2 separate regions of the Homo sapiens genome follow, and region 2 is linked to region 1. The links come from fine-mapping of genetic effects on gene expression. A gene starts in region 1. The other region holds a variant in brackets. All regions are shown on one strand. Distances are from middle to middle. Region 1 holds the start of FGF13-AS1 (FGF13 antisense RNA 1). Region 2 has its middle 350 kb from the start of MIR504.

The links. PIP is the estimated chance that this variant, and not a neighbour inherited with it, causes the effect. A credible set is the group of variants that fine-mapping cannot tell apart.
Region 2: its variant is the best candidate, but not a certain one, in a credible set for the expression of FGF13-AS1 in sun-exposed skin (GTEx, PIP 0.52).

The regions. Positions count from the first base shown.
Region 1 is chrX:138,709,884-138,714,272 of GRCh38, reverse strand. It overlaps FGF13-AS1 (FGF13 antisense RNA 1), which reads right to left and starts at 2,166. Exons shown (of 3, transcript NR_038405.1): 1 at 2,131-2,166. It overlaps FGF13 (fibroblast growth factor 13), which reads left to right and starts at 2,556. Exons shown (of 5, transcript NM_004114.5): 1 at 2,556-3,456. The coding sequence starts at 3,270.
Region 2 is chrX:138,316,779-138,321,167 of GRCh38, reverse strand. No RefSeq gene overlaps it. Among named protein-coding and RNA genes, the nearest start is that of MIR504, 350 kb to the left of the region's middle. The variant C/T (reference allele first, on the strand shown) is at 1,839.

The sequences.
Region 1 (4,389 bases):
AATTTACCCTCTGGTCACAGGCCTTTGTGAGTTCTCTTTGTGGAAGAGAGAGGAGAATGAATGAGGTCCGTAGACAGACAGATCACAGAGAGATGCCCCCTTCTCAAGTCTCATTAATAATGTGCCATGCATTTTCCTGTTCATGAAAACAAAAGATTCAAGGGGGTCAGGATATAAAAAGACAGAAATATCTTTTGTGGGTTGGCAGGAACATGTGACAGAGGGAGAGTCTCGTTCCCCCTCCCCCATACTCTTCATTTTTCAATATTATACAATTTAATCAGGGAGAGAAGGATTAGAGCAAGAAGGACATCTACAAACACGTGTAGAATCACCTGGTTATCAGCCTTGGCCCAGTGGTTCCATGAGCTTATGTGGATGGTAGACAGGAGTTAGAAACAAAAGGATGTATTTACAGTTTGTGTTTGCAAATTTGTAATAAATGCCCCCGCCATTCTTATTATATATTCCTGAAGTCTTCTCTGAGTCTGTTTACCTCTAATATGTACCACAGAGTGTCCACACCAATAATTCTACAGGCGTCCTGAAAATACCTTATGAATGGTGTTTGCAGAAGCAAACAGTGAGAGCTATCTGAGAGGAGAAGTGGAGGAAAAACGGTGTGGGAAAGCCCTTATGATTTTCTCAATACCATCTCTTCTTCTAAGGTCTATCCCCTTCCTGAATCAGAACTTCATCCTTCTTTAGCTTTTGCATGCCTGCTCTGGGTCAGGATCCCAAGAGAGAAATGAGAGTAGGAACAAAAGGCCCTTGGGGTTGGTGCTTGGCAGAAGGTAAAAACATGCAGAGAATAAGCAGAGACCTTGTACCTGTTCATCACCCACCCCAAATATTTGGGCTTGATCAAAGCTTCTCCTGACCCCTCTTTATGTAAGATATTTCCCTTCATGGTATCTGGAATTTAAACAACAATCACAAACATTTTGAACTAGGAAATAGCCTCCTACTCTTCAGAATCAATATCAATCAGTCATTCCTCAGGGATTTATTTTTCCCTATGAATCAAATTTTAAAGAAGTGGATACTTGAATAGACTTGAGGTGTTAAAACTCTCGTCTACCTTGTCCTCCCTTTTCATTTGGGAAAGCCAAAAGCACAAAAGAGTAGGTAGAAAATGTCAGACCCTTTGGCATCATTCTCCTGTAACTATCAGTCTCAACCCACTGCAACCTTTACCCCAGTCTGCCTTGCAGACACACAGTGGTGCTTCTGATGGAGCAAGAGACATTTCAAGATTGCAGAGAAGTGGAAGGAGGGGTAGCAACAGCTTCCCCTGTGAAGCAATGGAATCTACAGAAGGGTCCGGTGATTCAGCTCTTATGGGCTAAGAAGCCTGAAAGCATTTCAGTGTTGCTGAGTCCGAGCTTGTTTGTTGGGTAGTCAGGCAAGGAAAAAAGGGCTAGAGTCTGAAGATAAGCTGAGCATCTGGTTTTGCATCTACATTAGTTCTGAAAAGAGGTGATGGGGGTGCCATGTAGGAGTCCAGTAAAGACGGTGTAGGGCTGCCAGGTAGTAGAGCTGCTCTATTTTGCTTCCTAGTTGGCCTCAGAAATCAAGTAAAATAGTCAAATAATTGTGTCTGTTTGAAGGTAGGGATGTAGACAGGCCATTTCTCTTTGCTGCATTTCTGGCCTCAAAACCTCTTCTTTCTTTTCCTCCAGAATAAAATATAACACAGGGAGAGGACAGAACTTGTTAATAGACTGAGGCCAGCAAAAAGCCAGACTGGTTCCTGAATTGGAGGGAAGGAGGCTGCCTGACTTTGGAGGAGCAGAAAAAAATAAGTTAGGAGATTAGAGATGGGCCACAGCTTAAATAGAGAGGTTCGACTCTGCATTTCCCAAATACGTAATGCTTACGGTACACGACCCAAGCTCTCTGCTTGAATCCCAAATCTGAGCGGACAGATGAGGGGGCGCAGAGGAAAAACAGGTTTTGGACCCTACAAATTGGCTTGAAATGAAAAGTCAGCAAAAACCACTGGGTGGCAGCGTGGTGTGCGGGCGCAGCTCTGCAGTGTCTGCTTCTGCTGCTACCGCTGGGGCTGAACCCGTCTGGGGACTCTGGCCTCCTCCCCTGAATGGCTACAAGTGTCGCCAAGCAAAATACCTCTGCGCGGGTGGGTGAGGGTTCTCCGGGTTGTTGGTGCGTCCAAGCCTGAGGCAGGGATCTGGCGAACTTCTGAGGGGCTCCAGCCCGAGCACAATCTGGTCAGCTCAAACACTGAGGAAACACCCCCACCACTCCATCCCCCAATGCCGAGCAAACCCCCGCTCCGTCAGCCCAACTACCTCATCTCAGTTCCTCCTCCATCACTGTTTCCTCCCGAAGCTCCTTTCGGGAAAAGGAGGGGAGAAGGATTTGGACGACTGGGGCAGTGCGGAAGCCCCTACAGGTGTTAGCCGGAACGGGCGGCCGGGGACTTGGGGGGGTGGGGGTGGGGGTGGGGGTGGGAGGGGCGGCCTGCGGCTCCGAGCCTACGGGCTCAGCCCCGGGAGGGAGGGGCCGTCGCGGGAGGGGGCTGCAAGGAGGCTGTCGCGCTGTTCCGGAGGGTGCCTGCGGCGGCTGAATTCCTGTGCTGCGACTGTGCCGCGCCCAGAGCAGCAGCAACAGCGAAGATGCGAGGCCATTACCTGTTTGATCCCTGTCGGAAACCTGGCACGGGCCAACTTTTCCCGATTATCACGCCAAGAAGTTGCAAGGACTAGTCGAAGACTCGGAGGGGCCAGGGCGAGGGCGCGCTCCCCCGCGCGCTGCCTCGTCCCTCCTCCGTCCGGCCGCCCGAGCTCCCGGCCTCTCTCCCGCCCGCGCTCACTCCCTCCGCCCGCCTCCCTCCTCTGGCCCCCATCAGAAGGGCAACAGGGCGAGGGGGTCCGGCGAAATTCGGACCGGAGCAGCTGGACATGCACGGTGTCCGCCGGGCGCAGGGGCCGACCACACGCAGTCGCGCAGTTCAGCATCCGCGTGCCAGTCTCGCCCGCGATCCCGGGCCCGGGGCTGTGGCGTCGACTCCGACCCAGGCAGCCAGCAGCCCGCGCGGGAGCCGGACCGCCGCCGGAGGAGCTCGGACGGCATGCTGAGCCCCCTCCTTGGCTGAAGCCCGAGTGCGGAGAAGCCCGGGCAAACGCAGGCTAAGGAGACCAAAGCGGCGAAGTCGCGAGACAGCGGACAAGCAGCGGAGGAGAAGGAGGAGGAGGCGAACCCAGAGAGGGGCAGCAAAAGAAGCGGTGGTGGTGGGCGTCGTGGCCATGGCGGCGGCTATCGCCAGCTCGCTCATCCGTCAGAAGAGGCAAGCCCGCGAGCGCGAGAAATCCAACGCCTGCAAGTGTGTCAGCAGCCCCAGCAAAGGCAAGACCAGCTGCGACAAAAACAAGTTAAATGTCTTTTCCCGGGTCAAACTCTTCGGCTCCAAGAAGAGGCGCAGAAGAAGACCAGGTCGGAAAGGGCTTTTGCTTTCTTTTCCCCATACTTTACGAGTGAGGTGGGGGCGGTGGGGAGCAGGTATGTAGCATAGGTGAGTTTGTTGGTGGCCCATCTTGTGCAGAAGAGGCCACCTAGCCTGTGTGCGTGCGTGGGAAGGCGCTGGCTTTCTTGCCTCCGTAACAGTAACACGCTTGCTGCATTGCAACTGCCCTGGGACAGGCGCAGAGCCTGGGGGCATACTCTGCCCTGGGTGGCTTGCCCTCAGCTTCGGACATGTCACATATGTGCATGCCCGGTGGGCTCTGGGCAGGCGTGACCCAGACATGGCTGTGATATGTATGGCGTGGAAATTGCAGGCGCAGAGCTGGGCAGACACCATCCTCCCGTCCCCAGGAGAGCCTGGGGAATCCCTCTCTTGCTTTTATCTCTGCCTCAGACCCTTCCCCTCCAGCTTCCACCTCCAAGGGATGTGGGCTTCTGCTGTCTAGGCATTGCGTTTCTTTGATGACTTTTAAGCTTTTTGGGACAGACTTGACTTGTGGTGCAGCTTCGAAATGTTTGCTGGGGCGGGGGGAGGGGGGATTTCTAGAACCTTGTTGCAAAGAGCTGAGAGATTTGGTTAGACTTAGTGTAATCGGTTACATGCTACTAAAATGCGGTGTTGAAGAGGGGATTTAAGCTCATACCCAGACTGTGGTGCTTTTGAACATTTTCAGTGGTAGGAGTAGCGCGATATTCCAGCGACTGGAAATTCAGCTCTAGGTGTCAGGTTGCGTCAAGGCAGACCTTCAGGCGAGCATGCAGTTTATTTGCCATTCTTAACCAAATGAATCTTTTACACTCTTTTCTGCCTTTTACTAGATAAATATTACAAAAAAAATAAGAGTCACCGATCTGTTATTTCTCCATTTATGTGTGCTACACCCTGGGATGGAAAAGCAGACA
Region 2 (4,389 bases), 390 kb after region 1:
AGGCAAAAGCATCAGGTAACCTATAAAGAAACATCTGCCAGATTAACAGCAGATTTATCAGCAGAAACCCTACAAGCTAGAAGGGATTGGGGTCCTATTTTTAGCCTCCCTAAACAAAGTAATTATCAGCCAAGAATTTTGTACTTAGCAAAACTAAGCTTCATAAATGAAGAAAAGATACAGTCTTTTCCAGACAAACGAATGCTGAAATTGCCACTACCAAGCCAACCCTATGAGAATTGCTAAAAGAAGCTGTAAACATTGAAACAAATCCTCTAAATACACCAAAATAGAACCTCCTTAAAGGATAATTGTCACAGGACTTACACGACAATAATAGAATGAAAAAAGCACAAGGTATTCAGGCAACAAATAGCATGATGAATAGAATAGCATCTCATATCTCAATACTGACATTGAATGTAAATGGCCTCAACGCTCCACTTAAAAGTTACAGAATGGGCCGGGCGCGGTGGCTCACACCTGTAATTCTGGCACTTTGGGAGGCCGAGGCGGGTGGATCACGAGGTCAGGAGGTCGAGACCATCCTGGCTAATACGGTGAAACCCCGTCTCTACTAAAAATACAAAAAAAAATTAGTGGTAGCGGGCGCCTGTAGTCCCAGCTACTCGGGAGGTTGAGGCAGGAGAATGGCATGAACCCGGGAGGCGGAGCTTGCAGTGAGCCAAGATAGCGCCACTGCAGTCCAGCCTGGGCAAAAGAGCGAGACTCCGTCTCAAAAAAATAAAAAAATAAAAAAATAAAAGTTACAGAATGGCAGAATGGATAAGAATTCACCAAACAAGTTTCTGCTGTCTTCAAGAGATTCACCTAACACATAAAGACTCACATAAACTTAAAGTAAAGGGATGGAAAAAGATATTCCATACAAATGGACACCAAAAGCGAGCAAGAGTAGCTGTTCTTACATCAGACAAAACAAACTTTAAAGCAACAGCAGTTTAAGAAGGCAAAGAAGGACATCATATAATGATAAAAAGACTAGTCCAACAGGAATAGATCACAATTCTAAATATATATGCACCTAACACTGGAGCTCCCAAATTTATAAAATAATTACTACTAGACTTAAGAAATGAGATAGATGGCAACACAATAATAGTGGGGGATTTTAATACTCCACTGACAGCACTAGATAGGTCATCAAGGCAGAAAGTCAACAAAGAAACAATGGACTTAAACTACACCCTACAACAAATGGACTTAACAGATATTTATAGAACATTCTACCCAACAACTGCAGAATATATATTCTAGTCATCAGCACATGGAACATTCTCTAAGATAGACCATATGAGAGGCCACAAAATAAGTCTCAGTAATTTAAGAAAATCGAAATTACATCAAGTACTCTCTAAGACCACAGTGAAATATAATTGGAAATCAACTCCAAAAGGAACCTTCAAAAGCCAGCAAATACATGAAAATTAAATGACCTGCTCCTGAATGACTGTTGGGTCAAAAATGAAATCAAGATGGAAATTTAAAAATTGTTTGAACTAAATGATAATAGTGACACAACCTATTAAAACATCTGGGATACAGCAAAAGCAGTGCTAAGAGGAAAGTTCATAGCACTAAATGACTACATCAAAAAGTTGGAAACAGCACAAATAGACAATCTAAGGTCACACCTCATGGAACTGGAGAAACAAGAAAAATCCAAACCCAAACCCAGCAGAAGAAAAGAAATAACAAAGATCAGAGCAGAACTAAATGAAACAAAATGAAACAAAAAAAAATACAAAAAATAAGTGAAACAAAAAGCTTGTTCTTTGAAAATATAAATAAAATTTGTAGACCATTAGCAGGATTAA[C/T]CAAGAAGAGAGAAGATCCAAATAAGCTCAACTGCAAACAAAATGAGATATATTACAATTGACACCAAATAAATTTTAAAAAAAGATTATTCAAGGCTACTATGAACACCTATATGTGCATAAACTGGAAAACCTAGAGGAGATGGACAAATTCCTGGAAATATACAATCCTCCTAGATTAAACCATGAAGATATAGAATATCTGAACAGACCAATGACAAGCAGTGAGATTGAAATGGTAATAAAAAAAATTCCCAACAAAAAAAAAATCCTGGACCAGACAGATTCACAGCTGAATTCTAACAAACATTCAAAGAAGATTTGGTACCAATCCTATTGACACTATTTCAAAAAATAGGGAAAGAAGGAATCCTCCCTAAATCATTCTATGAAGCCAGTATCACCCTAATACCAAAACCAGAGAAGGACATAACAAAAAAAGAAAACTACAGACTAATATCCCTGATGAACATAGATGTGAAAATCCTCAACAAAATACTAGCAAACCAATTCCAACAGCATATCAAAAAGATAACCCACCATGCTCAAGTGAGTTTCATACCAGGGATGCAGGGATGTTTTAACATATGTAAGTCAATAAATGTGATACAGCGCATTAACAGAATTAAAAACAAAAATCACATGGTCATCTAAATAGATGCAGAAAAAGCATTTGACAAAATCCAGCATCCCCTTTTGATTAAAATCCTCAGCAAAATTGGCATAGAAGGGACATACCTTAAGGTAATTAAAGCCATCTATGACAAACCCACAGCCAACATTATACTGAAGAGGGAAAAGTTGAAAGCATTCCCCCTGAGAACTGGAACAAGACAGGATGCTCACTTTTACCACTTCTATTCAACATAGGGCTGGAAGTCCTAGCCAGAGCAATCAGAGAAGAGAAAGAAATCAAAGGGCATCCAAATCAGTAAAGAGGAAGTCAGACTGTTGCTGTTTGCTGATGACATGATCATATACTTAGAAAACCCTAAAGACTCATCTAAAAATCTCCTAGAACTGGTAAAAGAATTCAGCAAAGTTTCAGGATAGAAAATTAATGTACAGAAATCACTAGCTCTGCAATACACCAACAGTGACCAAGCTGAGAATCAAATCAAGAACTCAAGCCCTTTCACAATAGCTGCAAAAACAAAACAAAACAAAACAAAACAAAAACCCTCAGGAAAATACCTAACCAAGGAGGTGAAAGACTTCTACAAGGAAAACTACAAAACACTGCTGAAAGAAATCATAGATGACACAAACAAGTGGAAGTGCATCCCATGCTCATGGATGGGTAGAATCAATATTGTAAAAATGTCCATACTGCCAAAAGCAATTTACAAATTCAAAGCAATTCCCATCAAAATACCACCATCATTCTCCGCAGAACTAGAAAAAACAATCCTAAAATTCATATGGAACCAAAAAGAGCCCTCATAGCCAAAGCAAGAGTAAGCAAAAAGAACAAACCTGGAGGCATCATATTACTCAACTTCAAATTATATGATTAGGCCATAGTTACCAAAACAGCATGGTACTGGTTTAAAAATAGGCATATGGACCAATGAAACAGAATAGTGAACACAGAAATAAAGCCAAATACTTAACAGCCAACTGATCTTTGATAAAGCAAACAAAAACATAAAGTGGGAAAAGGACAGTCTATTCAACTAATGATGCTGGGATACTTGGCAAGCCACATGTAGAAGAATGAAACTGGATCCTCATCTCTCACCATATCCAAAAATCAACTCAGGATGGATCAAAGACTTAAATCTAAGACCTGAAACCATAAAAATTCTAGAAGATAACATCAGAAAAACCCTTCTAGACATTGGCTTAGGCAAAAACTTCATTACCAAGAACCCAAAAGCAAATGCAACAAAAGCAAAGATAAATAGATGGGACTTAATTAAACTAAAAAAAACTTCTGCACAGTAAAAATAAAAAATAATAATCAGCAGAGTTAACAGACAACCCGCAGAGTAGAAGAAAATCTTCAAAATCTATACATCTGACAGAGGACTAATATCCAGAATCTACAAAGAACTCAAACAAATCAGCAAGAAAAAAAAAACAAAAAGCAAACAATCCAATCGAAAAGTGGGCTAAGGACATGAATAGACAGTTCTCAAAAGAAGATATACAAATGGCCAACAAGCATGTGGAAAAATGCTCAACATCACTAATTATCAGGGAAATTCAAATCAAAACCATAATGTTATATCCCCTTATTCCTGCAAGAATGGCCATCATCAAAAAATTAAAAAATAATAGATGTTGATGTGGATGCAGTGAAAAGTGAGCACTTTTAGACTGTCAGTGGGAATGTAAACTAGTACGACCACTATAGAAAACAGTGTGGAGATTCCTTAAAGCACTAAAGTAGATCTACAATTTGATCCAGCAATCCCACTACTAGGTATCCACTCAGAGGAAAAGAAGTCATTATATGAAAAAGATACTTGCACATGCATGTTCATAGCAGCACAATTTGTAATTGCAAAAATATGGAGCCAACCCAAATGCCCATCAATCAACGAGT